2 separate regions of the Homo sapiens genome follow, and region 2 is linked to region 1. The links come from fine-mapping of genetic effects on gene expression. A gene starts in region 1. The other region holds a variant in brackets. All regions are shown on one strand. Distances are from middle to middle.

What was found. PIP is the estimated chance that this variant, and not a neighbour inherited with it, causes the effect.
Region 2: its variant is fine-mapped to the expression of MAN2A2 in whole blood (GTEx, PIP 0.99).

Annotation. Positions count from the first base shown.
Region 1 is chr15:90,890,812-90,907,509 of GRCh38, forward strand. MAN2A2 (mannosidase alpha class 2A member 2) reads left to right here and starts at 12,491. Exons shown (of 23, transcript NM_006122.4): 1 at 12,491-12,621; 2 at 13,379-13,528; 3 at 14,440-14,697; 4 at 14,768-14,912; 5 at 15,034-15,205; 6 at 15,559-15,686; 7 at 15,929-16,102; 8 at 16,498-16,684. The coding sequence starts at 13,397. FES (FES proto-oncogene, tyrosine kinase) reads left to right here. Exons shown (of 19, transcript NM_002005.4): 11 at 171-380; 12 at 743-865; 13 at 1,247-1,300; 14 at 1,896-2,014; 15 at 2,289-2,383; 16 at 2,480-2,603; 17 at 2,843-3,000; 18 at 3,125-3,247; 19 at 4,605-4,965. The coding sequence ends at 4,747. RefSeq lists enhancers at 11,532-11,581, 13,422-13,481 and silencers at 11,752-12,021, 12,042-12,471.
Region 2 is chr15:90,920,439-90,936,057 of GRCh38, forward strand. It overlaps HDDC3 (HD domain containing 3), which reads right to left and starts at 12,111. Exons shown (of 4, transcript NM_001286451.2): 1 at 11,991-12,111; 2 at 11,617-11,672; 3 at 11,266-11,506; 4 at 9,530-10,967. The coding sequence starts at 12,102. The coding sequence ends at 10,837. UNC45A (unc-45 myosin chaperone A) reads left to right here and starts at 14,847. Exons shown (of 20, transcript NM_018671.5): 1 at 14,847-14,937; 2 at 15,106-15,267; 3 at 15,508-15,544. The coding sequence starts at 14,887. It overlaps MAN2A2 (mannosidase alpha class 2A member 2), which reads left to right. Exons shown (of 23, transcript NM_006122.4): 23 at 1-2,141. RefSeq lists enhancers at 9,419-9,648, 11,279-11,508, 12,259-12,308, 13,933-14,032 and a silencer at 14,663-15,062. The variant G/C (reference allele first, on the strand shown) is at 11,070.

The DNA.
Region 1 (16,698 bases):
AGCCTGGGCCAGTCCAGTGCCCACTCCAGGGGCCTGTGGATGGCTCTGCATGCCACTCCATGGTTGTAAGGGCTGAGGGCATATAGGGGGGAGAGAGAGACCCCCGGCTGCCCCCACGGCCTCTTCAACAAGGTGGTTAAGTGACTCCTCCTCGATCCTCCCTTGCCCAGCTCCCTCCACCGCTGCAGCTCATTCCGGAGGTGCAGAAGCCCCTGCATGAGCAGCTGTGGTACCACGGGGCCATCCCGAGGGCAGAGGTGGCTGAGCTGCTGGTGCACTCTGGGGACTTCCTGGTGCGGGAGAGCCAGGGCAAGCAGGAGTACGTGCTGTCGGTGCTGTGGGATGGTCTGCCCCGGCACTTCATCATCCAGTCCTTGGATGTGAGTGGGGCTGGGACCCGAGCCTTCCAGGCCTCACTCTTCCCCTCCCTTCCCTTCCCCAAGGGAAATGGCCTTTCAGGGTAGGGGGTAGCTGCCAGGTCTTGGATGCCTCCCTAGCAGGGCTGGCTGGAAGGGGCCACAGAGACCACCCTGTCCCTGCAACAAAATAGAGGCTTAAGTGTGAGTCCTCCCCTGGTGGGGCAGCAGGATGTCATGTGCCATCAGATGGCATCTTTTCTGGAGGTCTCTCTGCCCCTGGTCCTGGGCAGGCCCTTTCTCCCCTGCTGCTCTCCCTTTCCCCCTCCCAGGGCTCACGCCCCCTCAGAATGGAGGCTGCTGACCCCGGGTCCCCTGCCCTGCAGAACCTGTACCGACTGGAAGGGGAAGGCTTTCCTAGCATTCCTTTGCTCATCGACCACCTACTGAGCACCCAGCAGCCCCTCACCAAGAAGAGTGGTGTTGTCCTGCACAGGGCTGTGCCCAAGGTGAGCCTGCACCCAGCCTGGCCCATGCCACCTGTGGCAGGGCTTGGGGAGTGTGGGTCAGGCCCACCCAGCGTCTGAGCAGAAAGGGCTTTCCAGGCCCTCCGTCTACATACAAGATGCAGAGTGAGTGACCCTCAGGGCCAGCCTTGCTCTAGGTTTGGAATGTCAGGGCCACTCCTATGCCATGGGCTGTACACACCAGGTTGGTGCTTACCTGGTCAGGGCACCTGCCTGGACCCCGTAGTCATCTCAGTGTGCTCCCCACGTGGTCCCACCCCTGGTCACATATGGAGGCGCCAAAAAATGGAGGACACAGCCCTTCTAAGGGCCCAGCACCCCTTTTCTTCAGACTTCTGATCCCCTGTCTCCTCTCTTCCCCAGGACAAGTGGGTGCTGAACCATGAGGACCTGGTGTTGGGTGAGCAGATTGGACGGGTGAGTGCGCCTCTGCTGGCCTCCTTGTCGCTGGCGACTTCTCCTGAGTCGCGCCTGGGCCCCCTGCCCTACCACCCAGAGACCTCCCTGCCCCATCTGATTCCCCACTTGTACCCCGACTCCCTGCCCAGCCCCCACCACACACCATCCTCCAGGAAACGGGACAGTACCTACCCTGAAAACTCCCAGCAGACAGCTCTGCCAGCACCCTGACCTCATCACCCCCACCCAGGCCGCCCCCATCGAGCTCTTGTGTGCACGCAGGGAGACACCCTGTTACTGTAAGCCATAAGATACCTGTTTAGGGAAGAAGTCACTGTCCTAAAAATCAGAATGCTTTTCAAACCCAAGGGAGAGTGATTTTTGGATTTCCATGTCACTTCTCTCAGGAAGGGTGGCACATCGGAGGCAACTTTCCCTGCCTGCCCCATGTGCTCTCTAGGTTCCCCAGCGAGGGTCAAACTCCCAGAGAGCCTGGGTGAGGGGTCCGAACACGGGGGCCCCTCACCCAGGGGTAGGAAGCAGAATGGGTAGGAAGCGGAGAAGAGAACTGCGGGACTGGGAAGGCCGTGGTAGGAGCCCAAGACCGTTTCAGGGGAACTTTGGCGAAGTGTTCAGCGGACGCCTGCGAGCCGACAACACCCTGGTGGCGGTGAAGTCTTGTCGAGAGACGCTCCCACCTGACCTCAAGGCCAAGTTTCTACAGGAAGCGAGGTGGGTGATAAACTAATGATCACCACGGGTCCCGCATACACAGAGGTTACACTGCATGGCACAGTGTGAAGTGCTTGACCACCGTGGTGGTGTTTAGTCCTCGAGGCCCCCCATTGCGGGTAGTACCCCCTTATAGTGCCGAAGGGTAGAGGCTGCCCCAGGTCACACGTCCGGGTCTGCTGGCCTTGGAGGCCAAGCTCTTCTCCCATCATCCCTGGGGGGCCCTGGGGAGGCGGGCCTGGCCACGTAGATCCTGAGCAGCAGTGCCCTCCAGGATCCTGAAGCAGTACAGCCACCCCAACATCGTGCGTCTCATTGGTGTCTGCACCCAGAAGCAGCCCATCTACATCGTCATGGAGCTTGTGCAGGGTGAGCGCGGGGCGCTGAGCTCCAGGTAGGGCGCGCAGCCTGGTCAGGTGGCAGCCTTACCTCAGGAGGCTCAGCAGGGGTCCTCCCCACCTGCAGGGGGCGACTTCCTGACCTTCCTCCGCACGGAGGGGGCCCGCCTGCGGGTGAAGACTCTGCTGCAGATGGTGGGGGATGCAGCTGCTGGCATGGAGTACCTGGAGAGCAAGTGCTGCATCCACCGGTGAGTGGGCGGTGGCCACGGGCCCTGCCAACACCCCCGACCAGAGTCAAGAGGTACCTATACCCCTAGGGCCCCCCGCTGGACCATCAGGCATCAGCTCCAGAGGGGGAGTTGGCCTCTGTGGTAGACAGGGGTGCCCAGGGCCGGGAGCAGCTTTTGTCCTTGGCTTTCCTAGAGTGTTCAGCCAGGGCTGGGCAGGCGACTGTTGGCCAAATGAGCCCCTGCCCTGTCTCACCCAGGGACCTGGCTGCTCGGAACTGCCTGGTGACAGAGAAGAATGTCCTGAAGATCAGTGACTTTGGGATGTCCCGAGAGGAAGCCGATGGGGTCTATGCAGCCTCAGGGGGCCTCAGACAAGTCCCCGTGAAGTGGACCGCACCTGAGGCCCTTAACTACGGTACCTAGTCCCTGTCTACCCTGGACTCCATGGCCAGAGGCCAGGCCTGGGTCCTGCCGGCTGCCTCGCCCTGGCCCCAGGGAGGGTGCACTCACGCTGCCTCACCTCCTCGCCTCCTCTGCAGGCCGCTACTCCTCCGAAAGCGACGTGTGGAGCTTTGGCATCTTGCTCTGGGAGACCTTCAGCCTGGGGGCCTCCCCCTATCCCAACCTCAGCAATCAGCAGACACGGGAGTTTGTGGAGAAGGGTAAGCACCCTGTGATGACAGCAGCCTCAGGCTGCACCCTCTTCCAGATGCTCCAGCCGGACTCTTCTAACTCCCTTAATGCCAACCTTCCCACCAGGCAGAATAAGAATAACCTGGCCAGTTGCTCACGCCTGTCATCCCAGCACTTTGGGAGGCTGAGCTGGGTGGATCACTTGAGCCCAGGAGTTCAAGATCAGCTTGGACAACACAGTGAAACTCCATCTGTACAAAAAATACAAAAATAGACTGGGCACGGTGGCTCACACCTGTAATCCCAGCACTTTGGGAGGCCGAGGCAGGTGGATCACCTGTGGTCAGGAGTTTGAGACCAGCCAGACCAACATGGTGAAACCCCATCTCTACTAAAAATACAAAAATTAGCCAGGCATGGTGGCACGTGCCTGTAATCCCAGCTACTTGGGAGGCTGAGGTGGGAGAATTGCTTGAACCCAGGAGGCGGAGGCTGCAGTGAGCCGAGATTGTGCCACTGCACTCCAGCCTGGGCGACAAGAGTGAAACTCCATCTCAAAAAAAACCAAAAAACAAAAAATACAAAAATTAGCTGGGTGTGGTGACATGCGCCTGTAGTCCCTGCTACTCGGGAGGCTGAGGTGGGAGGATCACTGGAGCCCGGGAGGTGGAGGTTGCAGTGAGCTGAGATCATGCCACTGCACCCCAACCTGGGTGACAGAGAGAGAGAGAGACCTTGACTCGAAAAAGAAAAAAACCTGGGCGCAGTGGCTCACGCCTGTAATTTCAACATTTTGGGAGGCTGAGGAAGGTGGATCACTTGAGTCTAGGAGTTTGACACTAGCCTGGCCAACATGGCAAAACCTGTCTCTACTAAAAATACAAAAAATTAGCGAGGTGTAGTGGTGCAAGCCTGTAATCCCAGCTACTTGGGAGGCTGAGGCACAAGAATCGCTTGAACCTGGGAGGTGGAGGTTGCAGTGAGCTGAGATCACACCACTGCATTCCAGCGTGGGTGACAGAGCAAGACTCCATCTCAGAAAAAGAAAAAAAAAAATAGAATATCCCTGTAGCTACTACTGAGTGAGCACCTGGTCTGTGCTAGGTCACATGTTATTTCATTTGCTCATCACTACATGTGTGGTAGGGATTAATATGTCCCTTTCTCAGATGGAAAAACAGGCTGGCAGAGGGGACACAGCTAGCACGTGGTAGGATTAGGATCAGAAGCCAGGCCTCTTTGTCCTTTGGGCCCTTGGTGGAGAACAGTGCATCCTTCAGAACAGTGCATCTTAAGCAGCTCCTATGGCTCATGGTATCCCCCAGAGTCTGCCGAGGACCCTCAAACTCCCTCCTCATGCCTGGTGTGCTGTGCCTCTCCTCACAGGGGGCCGTCTGCCCTGCCCAGAGCTGTGTCCTGATGCCGTGTTCAGGCTCATGGAGCAGTGCTGGGCCTATGAGCCTGGGCAGCGGCCCAGCTTCAGCACCATCTACCAGGAGCTGCAGAGCATCCGAAAGCGGCATCGGTGAGGCTGGGACCCCCTTCTCAAGCTGGTGGCCTCTGCAGGCCTAGGTGCAGCTCCTCAGCGGCTCCAGCTCATATGCTGACAGCTCTTCACAGTCCTGGACTCCTGCCACCAGCATCCACACTGCCGGCAGGATGCAGCGCCGTGTCCTCTCTGTGTCCCTGCTGCTGCCAGGGCTTCCTCTTCCGGGCAGAAACAATAAAACCACTTGTGCCCACTGAACACTCCTGGCATGTGCACTCCTCTGGAAGGCAGGTCTCAGAAGGCACAAGTGCCGGTATGGTGGCCTTGGGGAAGGAGGAGGACAGGCAGTATGCATGGGGCAGAGCTGACATGATTTAGTAGCAGCTGGATGTGAGACATGCGGAAGGCGGGGGAGAGATCAGGATGATATACAGGCTATGGCCAGATGGCGGTGTCATCCCCTGAAATAGGATTATAGGAAGAGGATCAGAGCTTCGAGGAGGATGTTGAGTTTAGAGATGTTGCATTTTATTGGAGATAAAAGTGTGGGTGAAGCCAGGTGTGGTGGTAGACACCTGTAGTCCCAGGTACTTGGGAGGCCAAGGCATGTGGATTGCTTGAGCCTAGTTTGAGACCAGCCTGGGCAACATGGCAAAACTCCATCTTTACAAAAACAAAAAACAAAAAACAAAAAACCAAGAAAATTAGCCAGGCGTGGTGGCACACACCTATAGTCCCAGCTACTCAGAAGGCTGAGGTAGGAGGATCAATTGAGCCTCGGAGGTCGAGGCTGCAGTGAGCTGTGATCACACCACTGCATTCCAGCCTGGGCAACAAAGCGAGGCCCTGTCTCAAAAATAAGTAAATAAAAATAATAAATAATTAATTTAAAATGTAGATGAATAGGTCTGGAAGCCCAGATGGAGATGAAGGCTGGCAATAGATGTGTGAATCATTGGCTTATGAATATTAGAGAGTAGCTGACACTATGGATGCGTATAACACTCGCATAAAATTCAGGAGGAGATGAGAAGAGAGTTCCACTCAAAGAAGACTGATGTGGCTGATGAGGAAGAAAATGCTTTTGAGGGAGTTGTTTCTCAAGATGAATTTATTGAGGAATAAGATGGCAGACTGGGGAGCCTTCACCTCCTCCCCTAAGTCCCAGTGAAACCTAAAAAGTCATCTGAAATATTAACATCACCAAAAGCGAAGTTTGAGAAGATAAGGAAGTATGAACATAACTAAAAAACAAAGTGGGAAACATTTGTAATACAGAACAGGGCAATGAAAACCTTGAAGTAAAATGGCCATCCCTCAAGAAAGTTCAGGAAATAGTTAACATCAGCTGGGTGCAGTGGCTCACACCTATAATCCCAGCACTTTGGAAGGCTGAGGCAGGTGGATCACCTGAGGTCAGGAGCTCGAGACCAGTCTGGCCAACATAGTGAAACTCCGTCTCTGCTAAAAATACAAAAAAAATTAGCCAGGCGTGGTGGTGTGCACCTGTAATCCCAGCTACTCTGGAGGCTGAGAAGGGAGAATTCCTTGAACCGGGGAGATGAAGGTTGGAGTGAGCAGAGACCGCGCCATTGCACTCCAGCCTGGGCAACAAGAGCGAAGAACAAAACTATGTCTCAAAAAAACAAAACACAGCAAACAAAAATCTATTTTGAAAGAGATGAGAGTGAGCCATATAACTTGTTTAAACAAAAGGAAGTTGTGTTGTCGTGTAATTAAATGAAAATACTAGGAAGTGAAATAATACCTCCAATGGAAATGGTAGAAAGCAGAACTGAAAAACTTCTGCTAGGTAGGATATGGTAGGTCTCTGCACGCCACCACTCCCATTGCAACCGCTAGGGAAAAAACAGCTAAGATGAAAATGTCTTTTTTTTTCTTTTTTTTTTTTTTTTGAGATGGAGTCTCGCGCTGTTGCACAGGCTGGAGTGCAGTGGCGCGATCTCAGTTCACTGCAACCTCTGCCTCTCGGGTTCAAGCGATTCTCCTGCCTCAGCCTCCTGAGTAGCTGGGATTACAGGCACGCATCACTACGAGCGGCTAATTTTTGTAATTTTAGTAGAGACGGGGTTTCAACATGTTGGTCAGGCTGGTCTCAAACTCCTGACCTCAAGTGACCCGCCCACCTCGGCCTCCCAAAGTGTTGGGATTACAGGGATGAGCCACCACGCCTGGCCGAAATGTCTTATTTTTAAAAAGAATGAAGAGTGGTCACAGAAATAAAGACTGAATGGACTAAAATTTCAAGGAGGGAAGAGCCCTTCCGAGTTGAACTAGTGATAGGCAGCTATTTTCTTCCCTGAAACATTTGCCCATTTGGGACATGAGGATCAGACTTGGCCCAAGCAGAGAGACTCTACTGGGGAAGAGAGAAAGGAACAGTTTTTGGTAGTTGCAAGGACTTGCTATGGATTAGGACCTAGAGGAGCACAAAATGCAGAGTGTTTTCCCCATGGGACATTTGCTGAGTTCTGAGGCAGTGCAGGAGACTGAGAAGGCAAGTCCCACAGTCTTGCAGTGTTTAGAGAGGAGGCCTGGAGTGAACAAATAGCTGGTCTCCCCAACATAAGGTATTTGCCAGGTTTTGCGCCTGTGTGGGTTGGGAAGCTAAAGAGCTCCCTTTAAATCTCTGAAGAGCAGAACTTTAAGATCTGAGAGAGACAGAGACTGACTAGGCTTTCAATCCAAAATCCAAGAGGGCCATTCCTAAGGAACAAGGACAACCAGGAGGGGATTGAATTTTACTGCAATTCCAACACTGCCCCAACCCAGTTCAGTACGTAATTGCATCGAAGTGACTAGCTCCTGTAGGGAATAACAAGATTTGAAGCCCCTATCCTTCTTTTATACCCAATATGTGACATACAATTAAAAATCATAAACCATGCAAAAAATGGAGAAATGTGGGGCTAATACATAAAAGAAAAAATAAATAAAAGCAGACCCACATGTGATCCAGGCATTGGAACTGGCAAAGATTTTTAAATAACTTGGTTAATATGTCAAATAGAGAAGAAGATGGACAAAAAAGAAGCAAATGTAGAGAATGTCAACAGAGTTGGAATCTATTAAAAGAGGATGAAAGGAGGCTATTGAACTGAAAAATACCCCTGAAATTACAAACTCATTGGATGGATTTCATAAACATTGATAGAAGTAAAGGATAAAATCACAATCGAATTTAGAAATTAAGTCATATCAGAAAACAGAATTAGTGAACTTAATAGGTTAAAAGGAGGTACCTAAACTGAAGTACAGAGAGGAAAAAAGAGAATGGAAGCTAAGAAACATGGGACTATATGAATAATTCAAGTTACAGAAGAAGTGGAGAGAGAAATTAGGTCCAGAACAACTGGAAAATGACCCAAACGTATATACAGCAATAAAAACAAACAAACAAAACACCACTAATATATGCACCGACATTGATGAATGTCAAAGACGTGGTTGGGCACAGTGGCTCATGCCTGTAACCCCAGCACTTTGGGAGGCCAAGGTGGGCAAATCACTTGATGCCAAGAGTTGACCAGCCTGGCCAACATGGTGAAACCCCGTCTCTACTAAAAATACAAAAATTAGATGGGTGTGGTGGCACATGCCTGTAGTCCCAGCTACTCAGGAGGCCAAGGCATGAGAATCACTTGAACCCAGGAGGCGGAGGTTGCAGTAAACTGAGATCGCACCACTGCACTCCAGCTTGGGTGACAGCAAGACTGTCTCAAAAAAAAAAAAAAAAAGTCATACTGAGTAAAGAAGCCAGACATGAAAAGAGTTCATACTTATGATTCTATTTTATGAAGTTCAAGAACAGGCAAAACTAAGTTACAGAGAAGTCAAAGCAGTGCTTATGTCTGGAGGGTCCTGATGGAAAGGCGTGTGAAGATGGAGGGGAAAAGGTTCACCATGGTGCCCTTACAACCATGTGTGTCTCTACATGGGCCACATAGGCAAGGCTGGACCACAGTCTGACAGCCACTATGGTGTGCTTAGGGACTGCTTGGCCACTTAACACGGGAACATTTTGGGTAGATGGGAATGTCCTGCATTTTGATCTGGGTGGTGATTATGCTTGTGTATGTATTTATCAAAACCCATCAAGCTGTACACTTAAGATTTGTGCCACACAGTGTAAACTGTACCTAAATTTTTAAAAAAGAACCACCAGACAACAAACAAGAATTCTTGAAAATTGAGATTATCAGGCTGGGCGCGGTGGCTCATGCCTGTAATCCCAGCACTTTGGGAGGCTGAGGTGGGCAGATCACCTGAGGTTGGGAGTTCGAGACGAGTCCAACCAACATGGAGAAACCCTATCCCTACTAAAAATACCAAATTAGCCAGGCGTGGTGGCAGATGCCTGTAATCCCAGCTACTCAGGAGGCTGAGGCAAGAGAATCACTCGAATCCAGAGGCAGAGGTTGTGGTGAGTGGAGATCACGCCATTGCACTCCAGCCTGGGCAACAAGAGCAGAACTCCCTCTCAAAACGAAGGAAAAAAGAAGATTATCACCAAAATGAGGCTGAGCACGGTGGCTCACGCCTGTAATCCCAACACTTTGGGAGGCCGAGGTGGGCAAATCACCTGAGGTCAGGAGTTCAAGACCAGCCTGGCCAACATGGTGAAACCCCATCTCTACTAAAAATACAAAAATTAGCTGGGCATGGTGGTGCGCGCTTCTAATCCCAGCTACTCGGGAGGCTGAAGCACAAGAATCACTTGAACCTGGGAAGCAGAGGTTGCAGTGAGCTGAGATCACGCCACCACTCTTCAGCCTGAGCGACAGAGTGAGACTTTGTCTCAAAAAAAAAAAAAAAAAAAAAAAAATTACCAAAATGGAAAATTCAATAGAAGGGCTGGAAAATAAATCTCCCAGAACACAAGGCAAAATATGAAAAGACAAAGAGGATGATGAGCCCAGTCTAGGTCTAACACCCTAATAACAGGCATTCCAGTGAGTAAACAAACCTGGAAAGCTGTTCCTGATGGTGATAAAAGAAGTGGCAGTCGAGTGCAGTGGCTTATCCCTGTAATCACAGCACTTTGGGAAGCTGAGGCAGGAGGATCAAGGCCAGGAGTTCGAGGCTGCAGTGAACCATGATCACACCACTGCACTCCAGCCTGGGTGACAGACAAGAGCTTGTCAAAAACAATAAAAAAATAAAAAGAGCTGGGCACTATGGCTCATATCTGTAATCCTGGAACTTTGGAAGGCCAAAGTGGGGGGATCGCTTGAGCCCAGGAGTTGGAGAACAGCCTGGGCAACACAGTGAGACCCTCCCACCCACCACAAAAAATAAAAAAATTAGGGCCGGGCACAGTGACTCACGCCTGTAATCCCAGCACTTTGGGAGGCTGAGGCAGGTGGATCACCTGAGGTCAGGAGTTCGAGACCAGCCTGGACAACATGGTAAAACCCCATCTCTACTAAAAACACAAAATTAGCCAGGTATGGTGGCACGTGCCTGTAGTCCCAGCTATTTGGGAGGCTGAGGCAGGAGAATCGCTTGAACCTGGGAGGCGGAGGTTGCAGTGAGCCAAGATCGCGCCATTGCACTCCAGCCTGGGCAACAAGAACGAAACTCCGTCTCAAAAAATAAAAATAAAAAAATTAAAAAATAAAAAAATTAGCTGGGTGTAGTGGCACATACCTGTAAGGCTCAGCTACTCAGGAGGCTGAAGTGGGAGGATGGCTTGAGTCTGGAAGGTCAAAGATGCAGTGAGCTGAGATGGTGCCACTGCACTCCAGCCTGGGAAACAGTGAGATATTGTCTCAAAAAAAAGAAATGGTCGTTAAATAAGAGATAGCATTGATCATTCTCAGCAAACTAACACAGGAACAGAAAACCAAACACCGCATGTTCTCACTAATAAGTGGGAGTTAACAATGAAAACACATGGACACAGAGAGGGGAACATCACACACCGGGGCCTGTCGGGGGTTGGGGGCAAGGTGAGGGAGAGCACCTAATGTATGTGGGGCTTAAAACCTAGATGATGGGTTGATGGGTGCAGCAAACCACCATGGCACATGTATACCTATGTAACAAATCTGCATGTTCTGCACATGTATCCCAGAACTTAAAGGAAAATTTTTAAAAATGAGATGGCATTATATATCTCATTAATCAGCTAAAACATTGTTTAAGCAATATCCAGCAGTTTGTTATTGATGGTGTAAACTGGTACAGTCTTTTGGGGGAGCGATAGTGTCATCAGTCATCTCTGTCCTTATCTTTTGCCCGGGTAACTTCACTGTTGCAAATTCATCATAAAATAACGTCTTAATCTGTTCGGGCTGTTAGGACAAAATACCATAAAGTAGGTAGTTTATCAACAACAGAAATGTATTTTCTCACAGTTCTGGAGGCTGGAAAGTCCATGATAAGGCATAAGCGGATTCAGTGTCGGGTGAGGGCCTGCCTGTGGTGCACAGATAGTGCCTTCTAGCTGTGTTCTCACGTGGTTGAAGGGGCCGACTCTCGGGGTCATTTGATACCGGCACTAATCCCATTCATGAGAGCTCTCCCTTCAAACTCTGTTCACCCCCAAAGGCCCATCTCCTAATACCATCATCACCTTGAGGGATTAGGATTTGAACATGAATTTGGGGGGTCACATTCAGATAATGTTATATATAACTTAAAAAGAACAAAAATGTGGAATTCATGGAGATGTTCATTGCAGTATGGATTACACTGAAAAACTGTAAACAACCTAGATGCCCAGTAAAAGGGAAACAGCCAAGAAAAGTCTGTGTCTTGTTCACTCGCTGGCAGGAAACATAGAGCAGGCACGGAAAGGAAAGGGACTCGAGGAATGCGCTGTACCGACAGGAGGCAGCACCCCTTTGCCCGAGGGGCGCAACGACAGAGACCTAAGGCTACCTGGGCCGGAGCCGGGTGAGGCCGCGGAGAACGCACCCCGCTACGCGTCTGCCGAGACGGAGGCGGGCGTTTCGACCACTGCCCGATCATGCGCTTACTCAAGTAGGATTCCGAAAAAATTCAGTCGCGCGTCCCTCCTGAGGTTCCGCAGCTGGCCAGGCCCGGCCCGGGCTGGTGCGGCTGCGCACTGCAGCCCAGCGGAGCGGGCCCGGGAGGAGCCGGGCGGGGACCGCGGCGGCCAGAGCTCCTGTCAGCTCCGCCGGGCACACGCAGGCCGGGGCGGGCGGCGCGGCTGTCCCCGCCCCGCACGCTGCTGGGCCCGGCAGCTTCAGAGGCTGGCGGACCCGCGCGGGGCCGGCGCAGCGGAGCGCGCCGGCGGCCCGGGGCCCAGCGGGAGCGCGGCAGCGGCGCGCGGAGCAGGGGGCTACGGGTGGGCGGGCGCCCGCCTTCGCCTGCGTCGCTGCCTGCACGCGGGCCGCCGTCCCCGGGCGTGTGAGAGCCGGCAGCTCGGCCGACTGGGCCCGGAGCGGCGCGGAGGCCGGGCGCTGACGGTAACGGGCCGGGTGCGCGCGCGGGAGGGCTCCGGCTGCCCCGACAGAGGCCGGGCTCGGGCGGCGGGAGTGCGAGCGCCACTGCGGCGTCAGAGGGGCCAGGAAGGGACAGGAGGCTGCCTGAGGCCCGTACCTGGCGCCTGTCTCTGCGGTCCCCGGGGCCGACGAAGTCGGAGCGGGTGGGGAGGGAGCCGGGCGGGCGGCCAGAGACCTGGCGGCAGGTGCCTGCCCTCTGTGATCCAACTCTCTCCCCAGCTCCACCCACATTGGCCTAGACCCAGTCTCTAAGGGCTGAAAATATTGCCCGGAAGCTCCCGAGCAGAATCAGATCGCGCTAAGTAGGGCACAACGCAGAGGCGACAAAGCTCCTCGGCCCCAGGGCCCGCGGAGCAGACTCCGGAGCGCGGTCCCGCCCACGCTCGGCTCCGCAGTTAGCGTCCTCCTTCCTCCTGAGCAGGCAAGCGGAGCCCGAGGGCGGTGGCGGCGGGGGGCACGGGTCCCCTGAAGTTGCCTCGCAGCTGAGCACTGGGCCCCGTCTCTCCCTTCCCAGGGGGCCTTCGGCGTCACTGCAGGCTTCCTAGGGGTCCCCTAAGTGCTCTGCAAACCGCGGCTGGAAGTTTCCCACTGCAGTGAACAGTAGAGAAACAGGGAGAACACACAGGGCTTGCTTTATGCTAGAAACACAAGCATCTTTCTTCTTTATTAGAAAGAAACTCATTCTGTGTTTCTGAGAAAGGATCGTGCCAGGCACTGTTTCTGGTGAGTGCCAGTTTGACCCGAAAGGGCACTGAGAAAGGCTTTCCTATCAGTCTCTTTGGGTTCTGGCTAAACTTTTAAATCAAACAAAATAGAGACTAGCTTATTCACCTGAAACTAGAAGCACATGGCCGAGGAGCCTGAACAGGCACCTCCTATCTAGGCAGGGAAGCTGTGTAATCAGGAGCTTGTGTGGTGCGCTCCAGTCGGAGCTGGGACTCTTATCCTGGGCCCGTTTTTCATAGCACCAGCCAAAGGAGAGCGTCCTCTCCACCCTAGCGGCAGAGCTGCTACCAGGACCAGGTGGGCCAGCCTCAGATGTGCTGCTTGTGCTACTTGGAGCCAGGCAAATGGGTGTTCCTTTGGAACAGCCCTCAGGAACTCACTGGGGTATTTGGTGGAAAGACTGCCACGGGCATTTTGCATGTTGGAGCTACAGATGGTGTCCTTCCTGCCAGGTGTGTGTGGAGGCCAGTATGAAGCTGAAAAAGCAGGTGACAGTGTGTGGGGCTGCCATCTTCTGTGTGGCAGTCTTCTCGCTCTACCTCATGCTGGACCGAGTGCAACACGATCCCACCCGACACCAGAATGGTGGGAACTTCCCCCGGGTGAGTCGTGCCTGGTTGCTAATTTCTTTGTATACAAGTCACCTGGGCTCAGGGTATGCACCTCCCACCCCGCCGCCTCCCCTCCCACCCCCCGCTGGAGGGTAATGTCAGTACAGGACAGGAGCCTTCCTTCCCAATAGTCAGGTTTTGTAGAAACCCTCAGCTAAAAACAGTGATGGCGAAAAGAAGGAAGGAAGAAAAAATGTCAATGGCAATGAGTATTGTCACTCTGTTCTCCTGAATTCTTTTCTTTCTTTTTTTTTTTTTTGAGACAGAGTCTCGCTCTGTCGCCCAGCCTTGAGTGCAGTGGCGCGATCTTGGCTCACTGCAACCTCCGCCTCCCAGGTTCAAGCAATTCTCCTGCCTCAGCCTCCCAAGTAGCTGGGACTACAGGAGCCTGCCACCATGCCCGACTAATTTTTGTATTTTTAGTAGAGACGAGACGAGGTATCGCCATGTTGGCCAGGCTGGTCTTGAACTCCTGACCTCAGGTGATCCACCCACCTTGGCCTCCCAAAGTGCTGGGATTACAGGTGTGGGCCACCGCGCCCAGCCCCTCCTGAATTCTTGGCAGACATTGCTAATTGATTGCAGCATTCTTTGCCATTAAGCCCCGCTGAAATCCTCAGCACAGGCAACACCGATTGTTGAGAATAGGTAGGTGAAAGGAAATCTTTGCCATCCCTGAGCTAGAGAGTGATGGTTCTCCCAACCCAAGTGGAGTGTAGTCCTCAGTGGTGATCTGCACAGCTCCCTTTATCTGAACGGTGTCATCTATCCCTCTAGGCTCATGGTCTGGCTTTGACTGATGAGGGAAGAATTGTACTCAGGCCTCAGCTGGTAGACCCCAAGCAGAGACCCTCCCTGTGGCATAAGGAGCTGTGTGTGATTGCTTTCTGGTTTTTTGGCAGAGCCAAATTTCTGTGCTGCAGAACCGCATTGAGCAGCTGGAGCAGCTTTTGGAGGAGAACCATGAGATTATCAGCCATATCAAGGACTCCGTGCTGGAGCTGACAGCCAACGCAGAGGGCCCGCCCGCCATGCTGCCCTACTACACGGTCAATGGCTCCTGGGTGGTGCCACCGGAGCCCCGGCCCAGCTTCTTCTCCATCTCCCCGCAGGACTGCCAGTTTGCTTTGGGGGGCCGGGGTCAGAAGCCAGAGCTGCAGGTAAGAGTCAGAGCTGGCAGGGACGTACAGTGGCCACGACTGGGGTACTGAGCTGCAGTTCACCTGGCAGATGCTCACTGTGTCGGAGGAGCTGCCGTTTGACAACGTGGATGGTGGTGTGTGGAGGCAAGGCTTCGACATCTCCTACGACCCGCACGACTGGGATGCTGAAGACCTGCAGGTGTTTGTGGTGCCCCACTCTCACAATGACCCAGGTGAGGGCCCTGCAGACTCCTGGGAGCTGGAGTGTGGAGTGGGATTTCTGATGGCCAATACAAGGGAGGGACGTCGAAGAAGATGGTGGCATCCTCAGGGGACCCTACATTGGCTCCCTAGGCTGGATCAAGACCTTTGACAAGTACTACACAGAGCAGACCCAACACATCCTCAATAGCATGGTGTCTAAGCTGCAGGAGGACCCCCGGCGGCGCTTCCTCTGGGCAGAGGTCTCCTTCTTCGCCAAGTGGTGGGACAACATCAATGTCCAAAAGAGAGCGGCAGTCCGAAGGCCAGTACCAGGCGGGGAGGCATGGGAGGGCATTGTCTGAGCCCCAGGCTGGGTGGACGGGTCTTACCTTAAGCTATGGGTGCCAAGGTGGCAGGGAGAGGCCCAGAGAGCTGTGGAAGAGATGAGTGATGGTGGAGGGAGGGAAGGCAAAAACAGATAGGTTCCGAGATAAGCGGGGCCAGGATAGCCTGGAGGTTGGCTGTAAGGAAAGGAGGGCAAGTGTGTGTTCTCTTGGTCCTGGGATTGGGAGAACTGGTCCAGTGAGGCCAGTGCACACAGGCCCTGACATTTGCTGGTTGGCAGGACTGGGCAGAGTGTCCTGCTCCGTCCTGAGTGTGAGTCCTTAACTATAGGCTGGTGGGAAACGGGCAGCTGGAGATTGCGACAGGAGGCTGGGTGATGCCAGATGAGGCCAATTCCCACTACTTTGCATTGATTGACCAGCTCATCGAAGGACACCAGTGGCTGGAGAGAAATCTTGGTAAGTCCAGGCCCAGGCATGGGGGTCTGCCCCCTGGGCTGTAAGGCACAGGCAGGGGCTGTAAGGCACAGGGATCGGCAGGGGGTGGTTCCTTTCTAGGCAGATCCCACCATGTGGGCCTGGTGTGATATCATCTCTCCACTCACTACCAGGACAAGAGCTGGGGTCCCAGCACCTGGAAGGCCGGGGGGCCAGCCCCTGAGGTGTGTTCAGGGCCTCTCTGGCTTCCATGCCCTGCCCAGGTGCAACCCCCCGCTCTGGCTGGGCAGTGGACCCCTTTGGATACAGCTCCACCATGCCTTACCTGCTGCGCCGTGCCAACCTCACCAGCATGCTGATTCAGAGAGTGCACTATGCCATCAAGAAGCACTTTGCTGCCACCCACAGCCTAGAGTTCATGTGGAGGCAGACATGGGGTAAGGCCGGGTAGGGTAGAGGGGGTTACTGCAGCATAGTCTTCACTGGGGAACAGCAGGGATATCAGAACTAAGACCCCCACTGTTCTTCAGAGCAGACCTGCAGGCACTGGTGTGGACTGCCAGAAATGGTCGCACCCTCTGGTTAGGGGAGGGCCATATTGACCTCTGGCCTCTACAGGGCCTGCTGTCCCAAGGGCTTCAGCGTGCCCTGTGTGCCCGTCCCCTGAGGGAGCCCCTCATGTCTTTCTCCCTGGCCTACACACTCTCTCCAGCCCTAGGTCCAGTTACAGCCTCGCGGTCTATCAGGGCTGCCTTTAGCCTGAACAGATCCTTGCCCCCCTGGCGTCCAGAGGCTGCCTGCTGGTGGTGACCACGTGGTGTGTCTCCTGCAGACTCGGACTCCAGCACAGACATCTTCTGTCACATGATGCCCTTCTACAGCTATGACGTCCCCCATACCTGTGGCCCAGATCCCAAGATCTGCTGCCAATTTGATTTCAAACGCCTGCCTGGTGGGCGCATCAACTGCCCTTGGAAGGTGCCACCCCGGGCCATCACAGAGGCCAACGTGGCAGAGAGGTATCTGCTTCCAG
Region 2 (15,619 bases), 29 kb after region 1:
TCGCTAGAGATTGTCATGGCCAGAGATCATAGGTCACTTCAGGTAGCAAGACCCCTGGCAAACTGGGCACTTGGCCTATGTACTGATTTGTGGGATGGTGGCAGGGGTGTGGGGTCCTTCACCCTGCCTGAATTCTCTTTGGCTTCTGTGCTCTGTATGCTGCTGTCCCCAAGGGCTCTTTCTTATTATGGCAGGGAGTGGGGATTGGTCCTACTTTCTTTCTCTGGAAAGGAAAGCCTCCAAGACTCCATGTGCTTGGGCAGCTTGAGAAGGCGTTCAGCACCACGCCTAGCAGGCAGACCTTGAAGCCTCACCTTTAGTCTATCTGCAGAGGTATTCAGTTCCTGGCACAGGGGACTAGGGGCATGTAGAGTATATGAGGAGGCAGTATGGCTGTGCAGGAGCCTTCATTTCAGCTTCAATTAATAGGGAAGAATTTATGATAGCTCTATAGATGCTGAAAAGGTATTTCGTAAGATTTAAAATCCATCCCTTATTAAAACTCTTAGTAAATTAAGTCTGGAAAGAAACACCCTAATCTAGATAAAGGTCTGTTTCAGAAACCAACAGTGATGGCATTCTAAAGAGTCAGACGCCACAGGCATTCCCATTAAAGTCAGAAACTAGCCAAGGGCAAGCTATTATTCAGCAGTGTCCCGGCACTACTAACCCCTGCAACAAGCCAGATGAGGAACATAAGGAAGAATTATAATTGTCATTATTTGTAGACAATAAAACTGCCTACCTGTAAAACCTAAGAATCAACTGAAGACCTGTTAAGAGTATTCTGTAAGTCAACCCAATGATACACATCATGTTCCTGTCCACATACTGGTTTTCCCCAAATCAGCTGATAAATTCAGTGTAATTCCAATGAGATTGAAACTTTGGAATTGACAGTTCTAAAGTGCATTTGGGAGAGTGAATGTGTGAGAACACTAAGACCACTCTGAACGATGATAATGAGTTGGGGGGTGGACTGCTCGGGGGTGATCCTGCCAGATTCCCAGAGGATTCTCACGCCACCATTACCTCACTCAGTGTGACCTGGAGGGGGTCAGACAGACGGGAGAGTCCAGAAACAGACCCAGGGCTACAGGAATTTAGTATATGGTAAGAGGGATGTTTTAAGTGGGGAAAAAGGTGGATTATTTAATAAACAGCACTTTTAGACAACTAGCTATCAAAGCTAGATCTCAGCTGGGTGCGATGGCTCACGCCTGTAATCCCGGCACTTTGGGAGGCCAAGGTGGGTGGATCACTTGAGGTCAGGAGTTCGAGACCAGCCTGGCCAAGATGGCGAAACCCTGTGTCTACTAAAAATACAAAAACTAGCCAGGAATGGTGGCGCGCGCCTGTAATCCCAGTTACTTAGGAGGCTGAGGCAGGAGAATCACATCAACCTGGGAGGCGGAGGTTGCAGTGAGCTTAGATCATGCCACCATGCCACTGCACTCCAGCCTGGGTGACACAGCCAAAAAAAAAACCACTAAGTTAGATCTCTACCTCACAGTGTCCATACAAATTAGTTCCAGAGGGAAGATATACCACAAAATTACTCAAAAATTTTTATACCTCTGGTGTGGGACGGTCTTTTCTAAACTTTAACATGAGACTTAAAAGATATAATAAGGGAAAAGATAAGCAGATTTCGCAACCAAAAAATATCGAAAGTCTCTGTGTGATGGAAAACATCAAGGTTAAAACACAAATGACAGATATGGAAGAAAATATTTGCAGCACATAAAAAAATCAACGAGTACAATTACTTTAGGAGAAAAGCTTGCTTCAGGGTCCTTAGAGAAAGTCACTGGGGCCTGCCAAGCTGCCACCTAAAGACAAGAGTGAGAGGGCTGAGTTCTTCCAGGTCATCAGAGTTGTTGCTGCCCGTATTAGGCCACACAGTGGAACCCCATTTATATCATAGCAGAAGAAATAGGATTATCAATGTGAACTGCTTAGCATGGTGCCTGGTATATACGAGAGCTCCACAAATGTGAGCTATAATCCTACTAGTAAAGGATGCTAAGCAGTTCCACTGTGGCAGGTGTCATTTGCTAGTAGAATTTGTAATCAAACAATAGGAGGGGAATCTGTGAACGCCTAGAAAATGAGCAGAATAAAGGATATTATCTTTGGAAGTCTTAGATGTGCAATGAAATTATTTGTCTGACAGAAACGAATGCTGAATTCTATTTACTTAAGCCTTTAAAATGACTTAAGGCAGTCCGGGCACGGTGGCTCATGACTGTAATCCCAGCACCTTGGGAGGCCAAGGTGGGTGGACCACCTGAGCTCAGGAGTTGGAGACCAGCCTGGACAACATGGCGAAACCCCATCTCTACCAAAAAAATACAAAAATGAGCCGGGCGTGGTGGTGTGTGCCTGTAATCCCAGCTACTCGGTAGGCTGAGGCAGGAGAATCACTTGAACCTAGGAGGCAGAGGTTGCTGTGAGCCAAGATTGCGCCATTGTACTCCAGCCTGGGTGACAGAGCGAGACTCTGTCTCAAAAACAAAAAAACAAAAAAAAAAAACATAAAATGACTTAAGGCAGCATGGCTCAAGGTGTGATTCAGAATCACCAGAACTGCCATTGAAAGTACAGGTTTCTGTTCTGACTAGGGCTTCTTCAGCCTGGAGGCTGCAGTGCAGATGCGTAGGGCAGAGCCACAGCTGCCCTGAGACTGCTGTGTCATAGGAGATAGGAGCAAGAAACAAAAGCTGACTTCAGTGCACAGGGGGATAAAGGCAGATTCCTGGGTACAACCTTTGAACTGGTTTCTGGGAGTAGAGGCCAAATAATTTGCATTTTTAACAAGCTCCCAGGTGATTCTTGTGCATGCATAATTTGGAAATGGCCCAACTTTTAAAGCAAGCAGCAACCCTTTACCACAGAGCTGTGGTACTGAGGCCTCACGGTTTGTTTGTTTGTTTTTTTTTTTTTTGAGACAGAGTCTTGCCTTGTTGCCCAGGATAGAGTGCAGTGGCACAATCTCGGCTCACTGCAACCTCCGCCTCCTGGGTTCAAGCAATTCTCATGCCTCAGCCTCCCAAGTAGCTGGGACTATAGGCGTGCACCACCATGCCTGGCTAATTTTTGTATTTTTAGTAGAGACAGGTTTTCACCATGTTGGCCAGACTGGTCTTGAACTCCTGACCTCAAGTGATCCGCCTGTCTCGGCCTCCCAAAGTGCTGGGATTACAGGCGTGAGCCACTGCGCCCGGCCAGCCTCACAGTTCTGAGGGTTACCATCAAAATGAACCAGGACATGACAGAAGCCATTTCAACCACTGGAGACGGATCGGATTCTATTCCTACATTTACTTGGAACCATCCAGCTTTCATGAAGAAGGAAGGGCTGTATGGCCAGTTGGAACCACAGAGAGAAAGGCTCCAGTTGAACCACTTAAGAGCTGGTCCTCCCATGCAGGGCGAGCCAGCCCAGACAGTGTCCTCATATGGCTTGCCTCAGGGTAGGTAAAACATAAAACCTCGACCACTTGTGCAGAGAGAGCAGCATCTTTAATTTGACCTGAACCTGACTTGCTTACCTTGCTCTGTCACTGGGGCATCTGTGCACTCACGGAGGGGGAAAATCAGTCTAGGATGGTGGGAATGAGGCTTACCATCCACAATAGAGATCTCTGAACAAAATCTTTGTTCTTCCCTAACAAAAAAGTGTGTGAAGGACAAACACTTCAAGGGCTCATTCTCATTCTCATTCTCATAGTGAGAAGAGATAAGACAGAGACCAGATCCTTCGCAACAACCCTCAATTTTACTTAGGGTCAGTGAGAAATCAATTCAGATGGTAACAGTACCCAGGACCAGCTGGGTCTGCAGTTGGCTCCTGACTCCTGACATTCTGGCTCCTGACTTTGGACCTCCCTAGTTGAGAATAAACCTGAACTAAAAATCCATGTAGTTAGGTAGTCTGGGCACAGGAAACCAAAGTGGGGTTGGAGATGCGGACTCTGTCATTCTGAATGTGACAGAGTTGAAGATTTGAGACACAGCATTGAGTGTGGAGACCTAGAGAAGGCCCCTCAGTGGAGTAGGAAGGACTGGGGTTTCCCAGTCAGCATGCCTCCCGCAAGTTTGAATATTTGTGTCCCTCTCAAATTCATACTGAAACTTAACCTCCAATGCAGCATATTAAGAGGTGGGGCCTTTAGAAGGTGATTAGGTCATGAGAGCTTCTCCCTCGTGAATAGGATTAAGGCCCTAATGAAAGAGGCTTCACACAGCCTGCCTTTTTTACTGTGTGAGGATGCAGTGACCACCTTGGAAGCAAAAAGCAGCCCTCGCTAGACACCGAACCTGCCAGCACCTTCATCTTGGACTTCCTGCTTCTAGAACTGTGAGAAAACGAATTTCTGTTCTTTATAAATTACCCAGTCTCAGGTATTTTTGTCATAACAGCACAGACTAACATACCTAGAGACTTGCATTCCAACTAGAGGCGCAAGCACACCTATAATTCTGCCCTCTCAACTCCTAATGCCAGAGATTGCTAAATAAATACTAAAAATGTAAAAACAGGCCGGGCACAGCCCAGCACTTTGGGAGGCCGAGGCAGGCAGATCACCTGAGGTCAGGAGTTCCAGACCAGCCAGACCACCATGGCGAAACCCCATCTCTACTAAAAAATACAAAAATTAGCCGGGTGTGGTGGTGGGCGCCTGTAATCCCAGCTACTTGGGAGGCTGAGGCACGAGAATCACTTGAACCCAGGAGGCAGAGGTTGCAGTGAGCTGAGATCTTGCCATTGCACTCCAGCCTGGGCAACAGAGCAAGACTCCATCTCAAAAAAAAAAAAAAAAAAAAAAAAAAGAAAGCAAAAACTGTCAAACTCAAAATAAAGGAAATCTTCTTTGACAAAGAATGGAGAGAATAATACAGCCATTAGCAGAGGCTGAGGCTATACAGCTTGAGAGAAGTAGAGACTAGTTCAGGATGGTAGGTGCTGGGACTTCAAAGTCCACGTGGGACAGGTAACCAAGTGTAACCTAGGAACGTCAAGGGACCAGAACCAGACTCTGAGAGGTACACAGGCAGGAAAAATGTAAGTTGCAAACAAAAACAGGATGACATGCAAGCAATCTAAAAAAATACTTTAAAAAATATATATGTGCAATCACCAAAGAGCTAAAGATATTCAGTCTTGCAATGAGAAACTGACTGAAAAGAAGCAAATAAGATTTTACAAATTATACATGCTGGAAATGTAAAAATACAATTATTGAAATATACTCTATGTATGGTATAAGCCCTAGACTGGAGGCAGATGACATAAAAATTTAGCAGGTCTGGAAAACAACTGAGGAATCACCCAGAATGCACCACAGTGATAAAAGAAATATAAAAAAGAAGCTAAGACAGATGGAGGATAGACTGAGAAGCTTTGGCATAATGTTTCATAGCAGTTTTAGAAAAAAAGACTAGTGAGAATACAGGGATGAGAAAACAAAGACGGTGAATTTTTCAGAACTGAAGAAAGATGTGAGATCTCAGAATCAAAGAGCTCATTAAGTTCCAAGAAAGGTACATTTAAAAAAAAAGGCCAGGCCGGGTGCGGTGGCTCATGCCTGTAATCCCAGCACTTTGGGAGGCCGAGGCGGGTGGAACATGAGGTCAGGAGATCGAGACCATCCTGGCTAACATGGTGAGATCCCGTCACTACTAAAAAAATACAAAAAAATTAGCTGGGCCAGGTGGCAGGCGCCTGTAGTCCCAGCTACTCAGGAGGCTGAGGCAGGAGAATGGCGAGAACCCAGGAGGCAGAGGTTGCAGTGAGCCGAGATCGCACCACTGCACTCCAGCCTGGGTGACAGAGCAAGACTCCATCTCAAAAAAAATAGATAGCTGGGCGCGGTGGCTCACCCCTGTAATCCCAGCACTTTGGGAGGCCGAGGCGGGCGGATCATGGGGTCAGGAGATCGAGACCATCCTGGCTAACATGGTGAAACCTTGTCTCTACTAAAAGTACAAAAAATTAGCCGGGCATGGTGGCGGGCGCCTGTAGTCTCAGCTACTTGGGAGGCTGAGGCAGGAGAATGGCATGAACCCGGAGGCAGAGGTTTTAGTGAGCCGAGATCGCGCCACTGCACTCCAGCCTGGGCGACAGAGTGAGACTCCGTCTCAAAACAACAACAACAACAACAAACAAACAAATAAATAAATAAACAGGCCAGGTGCAGTGGCTCATGTCTATAATCCCAGTACTTTGGGAGGCCAACGTGGGCAGATCACTTGAGGTCAGGAGTTTGAGACTAGCCTGGCCAACGTGGTGAAACCCTGTCTCTACTAAAAATACAAAAAAACCCAAAAACCAGAAAAATCAAAATGTAGCGGGGCATGCTGGTGTGTGCCTATAGCCTGTAATCCCAGCTACTTGGAAGGCTGAGGCAGAAGAATCGCTTGAACCTGGGAGATGGAGGTTGCAAATAGCCAAGATCATGCCACTGCACTTCATCCTGAGCGACAGAGCACGACTCCGTCTCAAAAAAATTAAAACAATTTAAAAAACCTCGTGTAGATATATTGCAAATTACGTAAGATAAAACCTAAAGGCCAGGCACGGTGGCTCACGCCTGTAATTCCAGCACTTTGGGAGGCCAAGGTGGGTGGATCACCTGAGGTCAGGAGTTTGAGATCGGCCTGGCCCACATGGCAAAACCCTGTCTGTACTAAAAATACAAAAATTAGCTGGGCTGGTGGCATGCGCCTGTAGTCAAAGCTACTCAGGAGGCTGAGGCAGAAGAATAGCTTAAACCAGGGAGGTGGAGGTTGCAGTTAGCTGAGATCATGCCACTGCACTCCAGCCTTGGCAATAGAGTGAGTGGGATTCACTCTCAAAAGAGAAAGGCAAATATAAGAACTTATTGAGAAACTGCAGGAATGAATATAACCTGTTGTACAACCATGGTTTAACTGTAGATTTTTAGCCTAGCTTTTTTTTTTTTTTTTTTTTTTTTGAGACGGAGTCTAGCTCTGTCGCCCAAGCTGGAGTGCAGTGGCGTGATCTCGGCTCACTGCAACCTCTGCCTCCCAGGTTCAAGTGATTCTCCTGCCTCAGCCTCCCAAGTAGCTGGGACTAAAGGCGCCCGCCACCACGCCTGGCTAATTTTTTGTAGTTTTAGTAGAGACAGGGTTTCACCGTGTTAGCCAGGATGGTCTTGATCTCCTGACCTCATGATCCACCCGCCTCGGCCTCCCAAAGTGTTGGGATTACAGGCGTGAGCCACCACACTGGCCTTTTTTTTTTTTTTTTTTTTTGAGACGGAGTCTTGCTCTGTCTCCCAGGCTGGAGTGCAGTGGCATGACCTTGGCTCACTGCAACCTCCGCCTCCTGGGTTCAAGTGATTCTCCTGCCTCAGCCTCCCGAGTAGCTGGGACTACAGGTGCCCGCCACCATGCCCGGCTAATTTTTTTGTATTTTTAGTAGAGACGGGGTTTCACCATGTTAGCCAGGATGGTCTCGATCTCCTGACTTCGTGATCCACCCGCCTGGGCCTCCCAAATTGCTGGGATTACAGGCGTGAGCCTCTGCACCCAGCCTGCCTAGTGTGTTTCTTTGGAACTTATCAAAATGTCTCTGGAGGCCGGGCACGATGGCTTCATGCCTGTAATCCCAGCACTTTGGGAGGCCAAGGCAGGCGGATAACTTGAGGTCAGGAGTTTGAGACCAGCCTGGCCAGCATGGTGAAACCCTGTCTCTACTAGAAATACAAAAATTAGCCGGGCGTGGTGGCACACATCTGTAATCCCAGCTACTAGGGAGGCTGTGGCATAAGAATCGCTTGAACCCAGGAGGCAGAGGTTGCAGTGAGCCGAGATTGCGCCACTGTACTCCAGCCTGGGTGACAGAGCGAGAATCCATCTTAAAAAAAAAAAAAGGCTCTGGAACATTTCATTTCCTGTTTTGTTACTGACCTGTGACTCTGTAAAAGTCTACTTTCGCAATTTGGATTAATAATTTTATGAATGCAAATTGGAGATGCTGTTCAAAAAAAAAAAAATAGAAAAGTCTTACAAAGGAAAGACAATCACAGTGATAGCAGACATCTAGTTAGCTACAGTAGACACCTGGAGTCCATTCAAACCTAGAGAAAACTCAGCCTTGAATTTGCTATCAGCTACACCATTCAAGAGCACGGGGGAAATGAAGACATTTTCAGACATGCAAAGACTCAACAGTTTGCAATGTACAAAACTTTAGTGGAAGAAAGTAGGTGTACTTAAGCAAAAAGAGAATTTGTCTAGGGGCATAAACTAATGAGAGGGAGGGTACACCTAAATACTGGCTATAAATGTAATACTAGTTTATAGTTTAAAAAGAGGCAGGAACTAAAATTCTAGAAAGCAATATTGTGAAGAGTTATTCAAGGCTGGGCACAGTGGCTCACGCCTGTAATCCCAGCACTTTGGGAGGCTGAGGTGGGCAGATCACCTGAGGTCAGGAGTTCGAGACCAGTGTGGCCAACTTAGTGGAACGCCATCTCTACTAAAAAATAAAAAATAAAAAAATCCAAAAACAGGTACTAAGAGGACAGACCTTGCATCAAATGGTGCTAGGAAAACTGGACATCCACAAGCAAAACCATACATCATATATTTTGTATATGGTGTATATACAAAAAAATTACACCATATACAAAAATTAACCCAAAATGTTCTTGCCACAAAAACAACAAAAAATTGGGTAACTACGTGAAATGATGGATGTGTTAATTTGCTTCACTATAGTAACCTTTTTACTACCTGTATGTAGCCTCATAACATCATGTATACCTTATACCAAATTAAATTGATTTAAAAAGAAATTTAACCCAAAATGGATCAAAAACTTTACTTGTAAGAGCTAAAACGATAACTTTGGGAGGCCAAGGCGGGTGGATCACCTGAAGTCAGGAGTTAAAGACCAGCCTGGGCAGCAAGGATAAATCCCGTCACTACTAAAAATACAACAATTAGCCATGCGTGGTGGCGCACGCCTGTTATCCCAGCTACTCGGGAGACTGAGGCAGGAGAATAGCTTGAACCCGGGAAGCGGAGGTTATGGTGAGCAGAGATGGCACCATTGCACTCCAGCCTGGGCAACAAGAGTGAAACTCCGTCTCAAAAAAAAAAGCTAAAACGAAAGCTCCTAGAAGAAAACAGGAAAAGCTTCATGGCATTAGATTTGGCAACGATTTCTTAGATATGACACTAAAAACACAGGCAACAAAATATATAAAGTGGACTACAACAAAGTCATCTTTTCTTAAAAAAATCTCGTTATCTTACTCCCGCAAAACTATTTAAAAAAATTAAGTTCAAAGTTCTCCAAAATGTACCATACCCTGGGGATTACTCTGAACTTTGTTCATTTGTTTTCTTTTAATTCGGCTTTTTTGGTTGCCTTTCACCTACTTTTTCGCAGAGCCCTCCGCTGGGGCCTTCACTTGGGCAAACAACTATCGTAGTCGAACAGCTTTGACCTAACAATTTCCTCGTACCCAAGATGATCGCTTTTCCAGACAACTTAATAAACTTTGGCTTTAATGGATGACTGGATGCAGAATAAAATACATAAAAATAAACCTCAGCTGCTCAGCAACGACTGAAAAACCACCACCGGGCAATCCCTCCCCATGGCCACCGAGCAAAGTTCCACCGCCTCCCCTACGCCGACCGCCGGGCTCCCGGGGTCGGACAGCCCCGGGCCACTTCCGGGCCTTCCCGGAAGTCCCTGTCACTTAACAACCGAAGTAACCCGCAATGCGGAAGGGCGAGGGGATTGCGAGTCACCGAGTTTCCCGCGCGGCTTGAGGTACTGGGGAACCGGAATCCCCCACCGGCCCAATCATGTTGCTGCTGGGGTCTCTCCGGTGCCCAGCAGTGGTTGTCAGTAAGCGGGCGGCACTCCCTTCCGATACGTCTTTTCTTTTTTCATTTTTGAGACGGAGTCTCGCTGTGTCACCCAAGCTGGAGTGCAGTGGCGCGATCTCGGCTCAGTACAAACTCCGCCTCCCGGGTTCAAGCGAGTCTCCTGCCTCAGCCTCCTGAGTAGCTGGGATTACAGGCGCGAGCCACTGCGCCCGGCTAATTTTTTTTTGTATTTTTAGTAGAGACGGGGCCTCGCCATGCTGGCCAGGCTGGTCTTGAACTCCTGACCTCAAGTGATCCGCCCGCCTCGGTCTCCCAGAGTGCTGGGATTACAGGCGAGAGACACCGCGCCTGGCCCCCTTCCAACTTTCTTAACGGGAAAGGCTGCTACCATTTCTTGAGCACCTATGTGTCAGGCTCCATCAGGCACGTCACAGTCTAACCTGATAATTACACAACCCATGTCACTGACAAGGAAGCCAGGTTCGGAGGGGTTGAGGCCCGCAACCTGAGGGAGGTGACTCCGGGACACACAATTAGTCCTGCTTTGCTGAAGGAAAGATATGCAGCCCACCAGTCGGAGGCTGGAGAAGGAGCAGCAGCAGCTTAAACCTTAACCCAGAGTTATTTTTATTTTCCAGAACGTGTTAGGAACTAGTACTTAAATAATCTCAAGTCCCTGAGGGGCCAGAGATCCCACCATGCAAAATAGCAAACAGACCCAAGACTTGGGGAGAGGCGGTGAGTGCATCAGAAATGGATGGGTACATCTGATTCCCACCACGCGGGGCTCAGCTTAGTTAGCAGGAGACCTTCAGACTGAGAAAAAATGCAAGTCTTTTTTTGGCCTCTAATATCTGGGAAGGATGGAGGGAGCTCAGGAGACACAGAAAAGATGGCGTATGAATCCTGTCCGGCCTGAACGAGGCTGGAGTTGTGCCTCTGGATAGCTTCAAGCACTGATCAGATTGTCAGCCCCCGCTGCTTGAACAGATGCTTTAGAGCCTCTTCCAGTTGCCGGTTTGTTCCCTGAAGCCCCTTCACCACCTGCGCTGCCCACTCGAAGTATTCCTGGACTCGATGTTCTGACCATCCTGCATAAGAGTCGACAGAAACTTGCTAGCGTGATGTCAAGGAAAGCACTGCCTTTTCCCCACTTCCTGGCAAGCTTGGTTCAAGGCCATGAGTTCCTGATG[G/C]AATGAGCTGTCCTGAAAACTTCCCCTTGGCCCAGCTATTGTATTTTTACTGTATGAAAGAAGATCAAAGAGTGGTCCAGTAGGATTAATTTGGGAATTAAGAATGCCCAGGGTTTTTCAGGGGAACTGACCAACATGTGTCTTCAGAAGGCGGCATCCCCCTCCCTTTTCCCTTACAGCCCATACGAAAGCGTACCCTCTGGGGTGCAGCGATTCAGGTCCCTCAGATTGTACAGCTTGTCTGCCAGCTTCACCAGTTTGGCCCCGGGGCTACTGTGGGGCGCTTGCTCCACCTGCAGCCTCTTTCTCTCCAGCTTGGGCAGAGTCTTGTCATCTGTTACCTCCTCCACCAGGCGCCGCACTTGTGCCCCAAAGTGTAGCTCCACCTCATCCAGGGTGGTGTCTGTGTCCTCCACCGTGTCATGGAGCAGGGCCGCCTGGGGACAAGTTCCCACTCAGCCCTGAGATGTCAGCCAAGGGTTGCCCATTGCTGAATGGGGCCCCTAATCCCCATCCCAGGCTCCTGGCAGAGAAGGGGGAAAGTTACCTGTAACACCACAATGTCAGTGATTCCCGCCTCGTGGGTCAGGATCCGTGCCACACCTGACGGGGAGGGGCAAAGCAGGAAGTCAGGTCGGAGGTAGTCCCAAGGCGGTGTGTTGTGGGTTTTGGAGAGCCAGATGTGGCCCCTTGTGGACTCTGACTAGCTGGGTGACCTTGGTCAAGTACCTTACCCTCTGGGAGCCAACCGACAAAGGGAACGATCATGCCTACCGTTCCAATTGTTATGAGGCTTAAACGGTATATCGCACTAAGCTTGGGACAAAACAGGTGCTCAATGAGGTGCACGCCCCCCACGTTTCCTTCCCAGTCCCCACCACCCAGGTGCCGCAGCCGGCGCTCCGCGGCCGACGCGCCCACCGATGGGGTGGTTGATGTAGGGGGTCCCCTCGGGGTCCTTCCGCCGCTGCTGCCGGTGCTTGCGAGCCGCGAAGTCGGCAGCCTCCAGCAGCTGCGCCGCCTCAGAGCCCATCGCGCGGATGGGGCCGACGACTGCGGCCGCAGGGGCAGGGACGGAACGTTTACAGCGCCCCCTGGCGCCGGGGAGGCCCGGGGATCGTGGAGGCTAATTCAGCGGGCCGAGTTGGGCCTGCCCCAGATGAATTCCTCTGGAGCTGACCGGCCCGCGCAGAGAGCAAGTGATGTGGACAGCTGCCTTCAGCATCGCAGCCCCCAGCTCAGTGTGCTCTGTTGGGGGTGCAAGAAGAACATAAGCCTGGCTCTTTGGGAGCCCACAGTCTGTGGAAAAGAGGAAGACAGACAAGAAATAAGGCAGTGGCCTCACAGTGCTCTGAATCCAGGGTGGCCAAGGCTCAGGGGACTATGGGAGCGGGAAGAAAGAACAATCCCCACACCCTCAGAGTCAGAGACAGCTTCTCCCAGAAGCTCCCCCCAAGAACCATCTTCAACCTGTAAAAGCTCTGAAAATTCTCCAAGTGTTCTAAAAATAGTTCTCCCTGTAGGGATGGGCCAGGTTCTGTGGGCAGGGGAGTCTACCTTTGGACCCTCCAGGAGACCCTAGGGCCTGACCTGAAAAATCAGAGCCTTCCCTGGGAGCCCTGCCTAATTGCTTCAGACTTAGGCTCCCAGGTAGCTGTGACGTTTCTGCAGGAACTGCCTTTGTTTGTCCTCAGTGTTGCAGATGAAATTTGCCTTGTCTTCTTATGCTATGAGAGCTCCTATTTCAGTCTCTAGGCATCTTCTGTGGGCCCCTGGGGTGATGAGTGTTGTCACTGCTGTCCTGGGAGCATGATGTTGTCAGGCCTGGGTAGGCACTGGAATAACACTTAATTCTGCTGGCTGGTGGCCTTCTGGAGAAATTCCCTGCCTTAGGGGCAGCTGAGGGGTAAGAGAGACCTGGTGATCCCCATAGAACTTCTCTGTGAGAGGGGGTTCCCTATTAGCTAAGTATACTCTAATCAGACATGTAGCTTTTGTGTTCTGGCTGGTAGCTGGGGCAGATAAGGCTCAGGGGAAAGGCTAATGAAAGGAGTCACCCTTGGTTTTCAGCTAGTCTTGGTGGTTGCCACGTAGCAGAGGTTAGGGAGGGAAGCCCCACATGCTGGAACTGAGGTCTCTGGGACCTGAAATAGGAGGGTCAGAATTCCCAGAGCTTCCATGGCAGCCTGGAAGTTGGAGAATGGGTAGAAACATATTTGGCTGTAAATGCTTGTTTGTTCTTCATACTAATGGCTCAGCTGCTCTCTCATCCCTCATTCTGTCCTCTAGTCCTTTGAGCCTTCTCTCCTTCAGCAGTTTGGCAATGCAGGCCCCACGTTTTCCAACAGGAGACAGAAACCCAGTCCCTGTCATCTCTCTCTAAAAGCCTGTGATAGAGAAGCTTCAGGCTCGTATTAATGGTGCCCAAGGGCCTTGGGGCTTTGACTTTTATTTCCTTATTGTCTGCAGTCACGGCCTAGAAAGAGAGATGTTGGGGTTCCCAGGACCAGGACAGAGGTGGTAGTGAACTCTCATGGGCATCCAGAGAAGGTCAGGCCCCTTGCTGACAGGCCTATCTGTGGGGCTACTGCTGCTCTTCAGCTGGGTGACCCTTGTCCAGCCAACCTCTCTCTCAGGTACAGCACTTACCCCTGTGGCCCACCTGCCTCTGGTGCTATGGGCTATTCCTGGGAACTGGAACTGATGGGGATGGGTGGAAGGGCATCTTTTCTTCTGGTAGGGGCTGATCTCTTTTACTCTCCAGTAGGGGTGGAGTGAGCTGTGGAAAGGCCCCTCCTGCTTGTCTCTAGCACCCCCACCTCTCTCTTCAGCTCTGGTCCACCACCCTCACTTGTGCCAGACCACCCGGGATGTCCATGGCCGTCACTACCCTGGTTTCTTTTGCCCTCGTCTGTCTGATTCTCCAGAGGAAGCCTACTGCTGCCACCTGCAGGCTGCAGGGGGCTCCTGCTGCACCCGGGCTGAATTTGAGGCCCTGTACCAAGTCAATCTGTCCGCTCTTCCGCCCCCGCCCATCCTCAGGTGAGATCTCCAACCCCAGAGCCACTGGAACATCGACAGGGTGTTCCAGTATCTGGGGCTCTGTTCCTAAATTATGGGGTGGTAGGCTTGTAACTTACAGACTAGTGAAGGGACAGACCGCAACAGAAAATCATGTAGATCATGATTACAATTACAAAGGAGAAGTTCAGGGGGCTGTGCAAGCTGGTAATGGGGAGCCATCCTGAATCTGCCCATGGGTGGCTCTAGGATGAGCTCCTAAATTCGTATGCAAATGTGTGTATGTAAGACGACACTTATTTGGGGAGGGAGTCCTGAGCTTTCTCCGGACTCCCAGGGATTCTGTACCCCCCACAGAGCGCAGCAGCGAGAGCGCGGTCGGGGCCGGGATCCAGATACTTTTTCTCTCCCGCAGGGGCCCAGGCCCGCTCCTAGTGCTGGGCCTCTACAACCTACTGGTTGTGACCCTGATGACCGTAGACCTCGTGCACTTCTGCTGCGGTCGGGGCCGGAGTCTGGGCTGGAGCCACCGCAGGCCTCCCTCTGGGTCCTCCGCCGCGAGCTCCCTGCAGGTCTCTGCGGGGACAGCTTAGGTGCGCCCGGAGCTTGCCTGCACCTGCGATCCAGAGCCAAGCGCCCCGCCCCTGCCCGGGCGCGCTCCCTCCTTAGCCCTGCCCCTCTCTGACCCCACCTCCGACGCAAGAGTGGGGCGGGGCAGCTGCCGGTGGCGTCCCGAACCCAGACTCGCCCCGCCCCAGAGACTGCGCCTGCGCGGGCACGAGACAACCTCTCCGCGATGACTGTGAGTGGTCCAGGGACCCCCGAGCCCCGGCCGGCCACCCCCGGGGTGCGTACCCAACCCCCGCGCCATCACCCCTTCGCACCCGCCCTGACCATCCCTGGCCTCCTTCTCCCCATCCATGAGGCTCGCCCCGATCCCTCCTCTCCTCTCCCCTTAGCTCCCGGGCTCTGCCCCGAACCCCCTCCGACGTTTCCGCCCCCTTTCTCTCTACAGGCCAGCTCAGTGGAGCAGCTGCGGAAGGAGGGCAATGAGCTGTTCAAATGTGGAGACTACGGGGGCGCCCTGGCGGCCTACACTCAGGCCCTGGGTCTGGACGCGACGCCCCAGGACCAGGCCGTTCTGCACCGGAACCGGGCCGCCTGCCACCTCAAGCTGGTGAGGGAGCCTGGCGCTCTTCCCCTCGCCCGCCCGGGCCCCGGTTCGCCCATCTAAGCTGATGCTTGGGCCCCAGCTGGACATTCACGCTCCCAGGCCATCCCCGCTTGCCAGATGTTTTTTGCACCTCAGGGTGGTGGGGGATCGGGTGACCTTGGAGAGCGAGAGTACCCCTGCTGCCTGGTTAGTGCCCCGAGAGGGAGATGACCATTCCTTCAGGCTCCTGTCTTTCTCTTACAGGAAGATTACGACAAAGCAGAAACAGAGGCATCCAAAGGTAGGGGAATGGTGGGCCCTGGTGTGGAGCTGTAGGGCTTCTGTGGTGGGCAAGGACTCTGGGACCGCTGCACCG